Regions from separate parts of the Homo sapiens genome. Here region 1 is linked to region 2. Evidence: fine-mapped expression QTL. A gene starts in region 2. The other region holds a variant in brackets. All regions are shown on one strand. Distances are between the middles of the regions.

Region 1 (5,374 bases), 320 kb before region 2:
CTGGGAATGGGTCAGTGGGCTACAATTAGAAACCAAACTATAGTAAATGATGTGGTTATTGAACAACTGTGGAAATGTTGCTTAGATGCTTGGGAAAAGATTCAAGATGATGGCAAAGTATGCCCATCGTTTGCGGCAGTCAGACAGGGACAACATGAACCCTACCCAGACTTTATTGCCCATCTCCAAGACGCAGCAGAAAAAGCTATCCCTGAGCCACGGCCATTGACTTGTTGTAGAACTCATGGCTTATGAACAAGCAAATCCAGATTGTCAGGTGGCTATTCGCCCTGTTAAAGGTAAAATTCCATGGGTGTGTGTGTGTGTGTGTGTGATATACTCACCTCCTACATTAAAGCCTGTGAAGGTGTGGGAGGAACTCTGCACACAGCAATGATCATGGCACAAGCCATGGCCTCTATTCGAACGCCTGGACAATTCACTGGCCAATGCTTTATATGCGGCCAGACAGGACATGCTAAAAGAAATTGTCCCCAGTGTACATGTTGCCATTCTTTTCAACCCCACCACCACCAACAACAAAAAATTTTTCAACAACAGAAAGTCCCACCTTCTACTTTATGCCCACGATGCCAAAAGATAAATCACTGAGCTGCTCAATGCCATTCGAGATTTGATATTGATGGTAATCCTTTACAGTCGCTTAACAACCAGGGAAATGGAACGAGGGGCTGGCCCCAGGCCCCTCTAAACAATGGCGCATTCCTCAACTCCCAGCCCCTGGCATCCAGCCAGATGGGTGCCTTCCCAGTCCAATCGATTCAACCTCCACCCCAATTCCCACTTCAGCAATTTGTGCCACAGGATCTAATGGCCCAGCCCCAGCAGGAATCTCAGTACAGTGTTTGTCTCCTGCCACTGCAGGCTCAGCAGCAATAGATCTCTCTTGTACCAGAGACATTTCTCTGTTGCTTGGATAGCTGCCTATTGCTGTTCCTAGAGGTGTTTTTGGTCCCTTACTGACTGGCAGTGTCAGTTTGCTACTTGGTCATTCAAGTCTAAATTTAAAAGGTGCTCAAGTACATACTGGTGTAATTGATTCTGACTATTCAGGTGAAATTCATATTGTCATTAGCTCTGCAGTCCCTTGGAATGTGGCAGCTGGGGACGGCATTGCTCAACTTCTGATACTCCCTTACATTCCTTTAGGATCCAGTTCTTGTATGAGAAACAGAGATTTTGGTAGCACAGATTATCAAGGCAAAGTGGCTTATTGGGCCAGCAAAATTTCTGACACTCATCCTGTGTGCTCTGTGCATATTCAAGGGAGGAAGTTTGAGGGAATGATTGATACGGGTGCTGATGTTTCTATTATTGCTTTACATCAATGGCCCCAACACTGGCTAAAGGAGCATATGTCCACAGCATTAGTTGGTGTTGGTGACGCTTCAGAAGTATATGCAAGCTCCACAATTTTACATTGCATGGGCCCTGAAGGACAAATGGGAACTATCTGCCCCCTCATTACACCCATTCCTGTTAACCTGTGGGGAAAAGATCTTTTATATCAATGGGGGACATAGATTTCTTTTCCACAAGGCAGTTACAGCCAGCAAAGTAAAGACATTATGACAAAAATGGGATTTGTTCAAGATATGGGCTTGGGAAAATCAGCACAAGGCATCACCGAGCCTATTATACCTACCCATAAACCAGATTCTACAGGACTTGGTTATTCTTTTTAGAAGTGGTCACTATCAAGTCTCCAGATCCCATCCCTTTGACTTGGAAAACTCAGAAACTGGTTTGGGTAGATCAGTGGCTGCTCCCAAAAAATAAGCTGGAGGCACTTCATATTTTGGTTCTTGAACAGTTAAAATTGGGTCAAACCCTCTTTTTCTCCCTGGAATTCACCTGCCTTTGTTATCCAAAAGAGGTCTGGTAAGTGGAGAATGCTTACTGATCTTAGGGCAGCAAATGCTGTCCTTCAACCTATGGGGACATTACAGCCTGGTTTGCCCTCCCCCACTATGATTCCCAAGTATTGGCCACTTATCATCATTGACCTTAAAGATTGCTTGTTTTACATTCCTCTGGCCCCTCAGGACTTTGAAAAATTTGCTTTCACAGTTCCAACCCTTAACAACATCCCTCCTGCAGCACATTACCATTGGAAAGTCCTACCTCAAGGTATGCTTAATAACTCTACTATTTGTCAATATTATGTGGGGACCATACTAAAGCCAGTAAGAGATCAGTTTCCCCAATGTTATGTCATTCATTACATGGATGATATTCTTTGTGCAGCACCTTCACGCTCTGTATTAATATCTTGTTTCTCTGCAGTACAACAAGCAGTTGCAGCAGCTGGTTTGGTTATCGCTCCAGAAAAAATTCAGACTTCTTCCCCTTATCACTATTTAGGAATGCAGCTAGAGGACAAGGTTATTAAGCCCAAAAAAGTTCAATTCAGATGAGATTCTTTAAAAACTCTAAATGATTTCCAAAAATTACTTGGAGATATTAATTGGATTCATCCCTCCTTAGGCATTCCTACATATGCTATGTCTAATCTTTTTGCAACGTTACGGGGCAATCCTGATTTACACAGCAAAAGGTCTCTGACTCCTGAGGTGGATTCTGAATTACAACTTATAGAAAAACGCATTGAACAGTCTCAGGTTACCAGAGTGAATCCACATTTACTTTTTGAAATACTAATTTTTCCTACTGAACATTCACCAACAGGACTCATTATTCAGGGACATAATTTAATTGAATGGTGTTTTCTTCCACACAGCTCTTTACGGACACTTACTATTTACTTAGATCAAATTTCTATCTTAATTGGTCAGGCTCGTTCTCGTCTCCTTCATCTTTTGGGTACAGAGCCCAAAAAAATCATTGTTCCCCTCACCCGATTACAAGTCCAACAGGCTTTTGCAACCTGCATCTCTTGGCAAGTACATTTGGCAGGTTTCCCGGGTATAACTGATAATCACTATCCTAATGTAAAATTATTTCAGTTCCTTAAACTCCTTGGATTTTGCCTAACATTACTAGAAACACCCCATTAGCTGAAGCTGCCACTGTTTTTACTGATGCTTCCTGTAATGGCCGAGCAGCATATATGGGTCCAAGAGAACATGTTCTTAACACAGGAGCTATTTCAGCACAGTGAGCTGAGCTGTTTGGTATCATGGCTGTTCTTGAATATTTCCCTGAAGCAGTTAACATTGTTTCTGATTCGGCGTATGTAGTACATGTTGCTCACAACATTGAAACTGCCTGAATCAAATTTCTGCCTGATGACAACCTACTTTTTCTTTTCCAAAGGTTTCAGTCCATACTCAGATCAAGGTCTTCTCCTTCCTACATTACTCATATTC[G/A]GGGTCACACAACCCTCCCCAGACCTCTCTTGGCAGCAAATGCCAGAGCTGATACATTACTTGCTCCCGTTTTTACATATGCAGAAAATTTTCATACTTTAACTCATGTCAATGCTGTGGGACTCTGAAAAAAGTTCCCCCTCACATGGAAACAAGCTAAAACCATTGTATGTCACTGTCCTACTTGTCAAGTGTTAATTTTACATCCACTTTCTTCAGAAGTTAACACTAGAGGACTTTCACAGAATGCTCTCTGGCAAATGGATATGACTCATTATGCTGCTTTTGGCAAGCTGTCTTTTATACATGTAACTATTGATGCTTTTTCTCATTTTGTCTGGGCCACTTGTCAAACAGGGGGAAAGTATGGCTCATGTTAAATGACACATACTTTCATGTTTCTCGGTTATGGGCTGTCCCAAGAAACTAAAAACTGACAACAGCCCCAGCTACACTAGTGCTGCTTTTAAAAAGTTCACTCAGACATGGGCAATTACTCACACAACTGGCATCCCCTATAACTCTCAAGGACAGACCTTGGTGGAACGAGCCAATAAAACACTCAAAGAGCAACTTCGGAAACAGGACACTAAAACAGAGGGATGCTGCTACCCCTTATGCTCAGTTAGTTAAATCTGGCTGCTTTTATACTGAAATTTCTTAAACCTACTAAGAAATCAACTTTTTACAACAGCAGAACAACATTTCACTGGAAATAAATTTGATCCACAAAAAGGAATGCACGTATGGTGGAAGGATGCAAAAACTAACAAATGGGAATTAGGCACTGTCGTAACATGGGGTAGGGGTTTTGCTTGTGTTTCCCCAGGAAAAGGACAACAACCTGTGTGGGTTCCCTCCCGACAACTGAAATTGCACCATAACTCCCAAGAAGAAACACTCCCAGAAACAAAAGGCAAAGACCCCTCTGAAACCAAAGAGCAAGTATCACCGCCTGACACATAAACTTCATGACCTCGACATTGAGACAAAATCTCGCCGTGTGACCTACAACACCACTCATTTAACTCCACCAACTTGGGGTCAAATAAAGGTCTTATCCCATCAACAGAAAAATCATTAAGAGAAAAATGAATCCCCAAAACGACAGGTAATATAATTCTGGCTGCCTTTATGGTAGTCAGTGCAGTGGTGAGTATACCACCAGTTTGGGCAACTCAAAATTATACCTACTGGGCATGTGTTCTTTTCCCCCTTTAATTCAGTCTGTCTCCTGGATGGACTCCTCAGTAGAAGTTTACACTAATAATAGTGCATTCATGCCGGTCCCTAATGATGATAGGTTTCCAGCTCAACCAGAATAAGAAGGTATGCACTTTAATCTGTCAATTGGCTATAAATATCCACCACTATGCACTGGGATGTCGCCTGGCTGTTTAGTTTATTCTTACCAGAATTGGATGTGGACAGTACCGTCCTTTACAAATGATTCTTATCAAGTACATAATGTGTTCAGTAGCAATTCTTTTCAACTTCTGTTAAACTTAATCCACAAGAGGAATGGTGGGTTCTGGTCACTACTAACAGCAATAAAACAAAAGGACTGCCAGACTGCCCAAAGGAATCTACAAAGGGACCTTTTCTGGTGAATTCAATTTTATGGAATAATTGTAATGCCATTATTGGCGGGATTGCTCCAGCCAGAATACGACATGCTCAGAGTTCAATTATTTGTTACAATATTAGAGGACGGATGGCAGTCCTACAGGTTGAGAGAATGGGTGTCTCCTTACCCATTCAAATGGATGAACACAGGCATTGTTCCTTCTAGACCAAAAATGATTCATCCCATTGTTACCCCAGAACATCCTGAATTATGGAAATTAGCTGCAGCTATGACAGGAATAAGGATATGGAGTGCTACCTATCAACTCTCTCCCACTAATATCAAAACACCCACATTCAACATCACCTTGATGTCTGAACAGGTGATACGTATCAGGAGCTGTGTCAAACCCCCTTACATGCTGTTGGTTGGAAATATAATTATCATTCCCAATACA
Region 2 (5,355 bases):
CTTAGGGGTAGAATATGAGCGGCACAAGCGCGAAGCTCGGGCCTGCTGTGTACCCACGCGTGCACGCAGGTGTACCAGTGCGGACAAGAGCTGGGGCAGCCATCCACTTCCTGAACACGGCGGGAGAGAGATGCTAAGGGGAAGGAGGGAGCCTCTTTGGTTTTCTCTCCCGCGTCCGCCTATGTCCTGGCAGGGGGTCTTGGGGAAATGGGAGGGTGAACCCCAGCACACCCACCCGGACGGTGGTGACATCATAGCTTTCCGTCCCCATGGCAACGGGCAGCCGGGTCTCCGGTTACATTGACTTAACCGCCGGCCTAGACTAGCAGAGAAGCGTGGACTGAGTTCCTCCAGCCAAGCACTGGGTGGAAAGTTTTGGGGGAGCTGCGTCCTCTGGTGGATGCTTGGGGACAAGGAGATAAGGAAGAGAAAGAACCAACCGCCAGAGTTGCTCTGCTGGAGCCAGAGCTAAACCCAAAAGTCAGGCTTGATTAAGAGTCTGACAATAGGCCGGGCGCGGTGGCTCACGCCTGTAATACCAGCACTTTGGGAGGCCGAGGCGGGCGGATCAAGAGGTCAGGAGATCGAGACTATCATCCTGGCTAACACGGTGAAACCCGCACGGTGGGCGCCTGTAATCCCAGCTACTCAGGAGGCTGAGGCAGGAGAATGGCGTGAACCCGGGAGGCGGAGCTTGCAGTGAGCCGAGATTGCCTCACTGCACTCCAGCTTGTGCAATAGAGTTTCGAAAAAAAAAAAGTGCTTTTTTATATCGAGGCAATTCGAGTCAATAATATATGCTGCAAATAATTCTGTAAAGATAACTAGAAGCTGGGCGCGGTGGCTCACGCCTGTAAACTCAGCACTTTGGGAGGCCAAGGCTTGCTTGCGTGCAGGAGTTTGAGGCCATCCTGGGCAACATTAGCGAGACCCTCTCTCTAGAAAAAAAAATCAAAACTTAGCTAGGTTTGGCCACTCTAGGCACGCTGCCTATGGGGTAGCCCTGCTCTGCAAAGAGCAGTAAAACATAAAGTTAGCCGGGCGTGGTGACACATGCCTGTGGTCCCAGCTATTCAGGAGGCTGAGGTGGGAGGATTGCTTGAAGCCGGGAGTTTGAGGCTGTAGGGAGCTGTGATCGCCCCACCTCGCTCAGCCTGGGTGACAGAGTGAGACCCTGTATCAAAAAAATAAAAATATAAATATAACTAGAGCACGCAGCATCATCACTATGTTACAGAAGGGAAAATGAGGAACAGAACGTTAACACCAAAGTCAGAAAGTTTTAAAGGCTTGGTCTCCATGCTTCTACTTTGCCACTGCAAGACCACAGTGAATTAAGTCTCATCCCTGCCTGGGTTAGATGTCAGAGCCTGAGACACAATGTAGTTGGACTCCAGTCCACAGGTGGCTGACTCCAAATCTGATATGAGTTAACTCCAAATCTGATGTAAGTTCAAGTTTTGGGACTGTTCCTTAACTTTTTTTTTTTTTTTTTGAGACGGAGTCTCGCTCTGTAGCCCAGGCTGGAGTGCAGTGGCGCGATCTCGACTCACTGCAAGCTCTGCCTCCTGGGTTCATGCCATTCTCCTGCCTCAGCCTCCCAGGTAGCTGGGACTACAGGCGCCTGCCACCACGCCTGGCTAATTTTTTGTATTTTTTAGTAGAGACGGGGTTTCACCGTGTTAGCCAGGTGAATCTCCTGACCTCGTAATCTGCCCGCCTCGGCCTCCCAAAGTGCTGGGATTACAGGCGTGAGACACCGCGCCCGGCCTTTTTTTTTTTCGAGATGGAGTCTCCCTCTGTAGCCCAGGCTGGAGTGCAGCGGCATGATCTTGGCTAACTGCAACCTCCGCCTCCTGGGTTCAAGCAATTCTCCAGCCTCCGCCTCCCTAGTAGCTGGGACTATAGGCACCTGCCACCATGCCTGGCTAATTTTTGTAGTTTTAGTAGAGCTGGGGTTTCACCATACTGGTCAGGCTGGTCTCGAATTCCTGACCTCAGGTGATCCACCCACCCGCCTCGGCCTCCCAAAGTGTTGGGATTACAGGCGTGAGCCACGCCGCCCGGCCCTTTTTTTTTTTTTTTTTAACAGGGTCTCACTCTGTTGCCCAGACTGGAGTGTAGTGGCGCGATCTCGGCTCACCTCCGCCTCCCAGGCTCAAGCGATTCCTCTGCCTCAGCCTCCCAAGTAGCTGAGATTACAGGCGCGCGCCACTACCGCCCGGCTAACTTTTTTATTTTTAGTAAAGACGGGGGTTTCACCATGTTGGCCAGGCTGGTCTTGAACTCCTGACCTCAAATGATCCACCAGCCTCGGCCTCCCAAAGTGCTGGGATTACAGGCGTGAGCCACCGCGCCAGGCCTATCCCTTAAAATAGTTTTTAATTTGAATAAGGTTTACTATGAATAAATAAATCACAGTCGGCTTGATCCCAAGAGCACAGACGTTCCTGGTGCCCCTTTTCGTGCTCTCCCAGCTTGCGCCACTATGGCCCTGGCCCTTTAAGGCTGAGCGCGAGGCCCCGCCTCGCCCGGCGCCCCGCCCCTCCCGCTGGATCCCGCAGCCGCGGCTCTTCCCGACGCGTTCCGCCTTCCCCAGCTGTGCACTCTCCATCCAGCTGTGCGCTCTCGTCGGGAGTCCCAGCCATGTCCGACGAGAGAGAGGTAGCCGAGGCAGCGACCGGGGAAGACGCCTCTTCGCCGCCTCCGAAAACCGAGGCAGCGAGCGACCCCCAGCATCCCGCGGCCTCCGAAGGGGCCGCCGCCGCCGCCGCCTCGCCGCCACTGCTGCGCTGCCTAGTGCTCACCGGCTTTGGAGGCTACGACAAGGTGAAGCTGCAGAGCCGGCCGGCAGCGCCCCCGGCCCCTGGGCCCGGCCAGCTGACGCTGCGTCTGCGGGCCTGCGGGCTCAACTTCGCAGACCTCATGGCTAGGCAGGGGCTGTACGACCGTCTCCCGCCTCTGCCTGTCACTCCGGGCATGGAGGGCGCGGGTGTTGTGATCGCAGTGGGCGAGGGAGTCAGCGACCGCAAGGTGAGCGGGTTGCGTAGGGCAGGGCAGGGCTGCGCAGGCCACTGGGCAGTGGGGCACGAGTGGGCGAGCGCCGGGGGTGTGGCAGGGCGGGAGAAACTGGCGCGGACCTGGGTGCACGAGCGTGGAAAGCGTAGCCAAGGAACTTGTGTTTGGGGGCTCCTGGAGAGCGGCATTTATGTGGGGAGGGGAGACGAAATTATCGCCCCTTCCCCAACCATTTTTAGTTGTGGCCGCCGCCCAGAAGCTGTGCTGGTGGGGGGGAAAACAATAAGGTGCCCATGCGCATGCGCACAACCACACTACCGTCCCCACCCCCCCCCCCCCCCCCCATTAAAACCACACCTGTACCCCTACCCACCAAACACTCTCTGGGTAATTGTGGTCTGTGACTATGAGTGACGGTTAGTGCCCCCTTTCCCCGAGGGAGCTTGAGGGGCTATGTCGTCGGGGTTGGGCGGGGGCACAGCGGCCGTGCCAGAGTCCTGGTCACATGCAGCCCCGTGGTCTGTGGGGGTGTGAGGCGGCCCCTCCCAAAGCAAGGCCAAAGAGACGAGACACGCCCATCACGGAGGAGAGAGAGCCTTTGCTACCCCACCGCCACCAGCCTTACACCGCCGATCTGATTTTGGGGTGGGGGAGGCGGGATTGGGTCATCCGATCTTTGTCTTGGGCTCTGTGTCTCCCGTGACTGCAGTATCTCCTCCTCCTGTGACTCAGCCCTCAGCCTTCGGGCCACGACCCGGGGCTGCCCTTGGGAATGCCTGGGGCGGGGAGTGGAAGGGGGGACCCACCTCTGCCTTCCTCCTGCAGAGGACCCCCACTTCAGAAACCCCAGTGCCAGGGGTTTGGACTGGAACGGAGAGGTGCGGCGCCTTGAACTGGTTGGCCAAGTCTGCAGGCCTGTTTCTCCTTCTCATTTATCATTAATCTTGGCCACAACCCTGGACACCAGAGAGCTCAAAATGATCAGCTTTTTGAGAGACCTGGGATGAGGCCTCAGCACGCCATTTGTTTAGAGGTTTCTTTTTTTTTTCTTTTTCTTTTTTTTTTTTTTTTTTTTTAGACGGAGTTTCGCTCTTGTTGCCCAGGCTGGAGTGCAATGGCGCGATCTCGGCTCACCGCAACCTCTGCCTCCCGGGTTCAAGCGATTCTCCTGCCTCAGCCTCTCGAGTAGCTGGGATTACAGGCATGCGCCACCATGCCTGGCTAATTTTGTATTTTAGTAGAGATGGGTTTCTCCATGTCGGTCAGTCTGGTCTCGAACTCCCGACCTCAGGTGATCTGCCCACCTCGGCCTCCCTAAGTGCTGGGGTTACAGACATAAGCCACTGCGCTTGGCCAGGAGTTTCCTTTTTAAATCAGACCCCTCAATGAGAGGCCCCACAGATGCAGCCTCTTGCAGACCTGCCAGCCCAATTCTGGAGCCAGGTTTGTTGGATTCATCCTGTATGCAAACAGCTTCTCCTTAAGGCTTTCCTCTGAATTCAGCTCTGGCCCCACCCTCAAACTGACTTCTAAATGATCCCACTCTTGAGCAGGCGTCTAAGAGGAATATTTTCGGGAGGTAGTTGTAGTTCATGTTACTGCTGAAGGCCACCCACCTCACCTCCCCTCCATACACTTTCCGCCTGGTAAATACAGGATATCCTGTCCAGGGCAAGAATCTGATGTAAGAGCCTGGATTCTGCGGGGAGGGCCCTTCCCTCTCTCTCCCTCCTCCTCCTTCCTGGTGTCTGGGTTGGGGAGGGGTCATGGCCCTGATTTGGATGGCCTGAGGGTTAGCATGAGCCAGGGTAAGTGAGACTTGTTCTGGGTCAAATCTGGGACTGGCCATGACCCTAAATGACCAATGCACTCCTCGCAGCTCTCCTGGGTTGTTCTGTATCTGCTAGTCCTGAGTCCCTGGGTGGAGGGCTTCCGTTCTTGTTCTCCAGACCTCATCTCAGGCCAGAACTTGGAAGGAAAGACCCCAGCATGCCCTCAGTTCTCGTATTCAGTGGAGTGTGGGGGCTTGAGGACATGAAAAAGGGCGTAAGTGGCAGTCCCATCCCCCTTCCCCATGGACCCTAACTCTTGTTAATATACAGAATTCCCATCATTCCTGGCAGGGATCAAGACAGACCCAGATTGTCCCAGAACAGCACCCACACCTCCCTCTTCATGCTCTTCAGAGAGCGCAGAGAAGTCTTTTCTCCTGACGCTCCCTCCTTTTCCCTGCCCTTCCCTTGACCCCACTTGCTAAGCTGGAGAGAAAGGTTCTGTTATCTTTGTCCCCTTTCCCTCCTGCACAGAGGCTCTCGTGGGGGTGGGGGGGAAGCCTTT

The links. PIP is the estimated chance that this variant, and not a neighbour inherited with it, causes the effect. A credible set is the group of variants that fine-mapping cannot tell apart.
Region 1: its variant is the best candidate, but not a certain one, in a credible set for the expression of VAT1 in whole blood (INTERVAL, PIP 0.58).

Annotation. Positions count from the first base shown.
Region 1 is chr17:43,340,265-43,345,638 of GRCh38, reverse strand. No RefSeq gene overlaps it. Among named protein-coding and RNA genes, the nearest start is that of LINC00910, 46 kb to the left of the region's middle. The variant G/A (reference allele first, on the strand shown) is at 3,351.
Region 2 is chr17:43,019,614-43,024,968 of GRCh38, reverse strand. It overlaps VAT1 (vesicle amine transport 1), which reads left to right and starts at 2,584. Exons shown (of 6, transcript NM_006373.4): 1 at 2,584-3,033. The coding sequence starts at 2,647.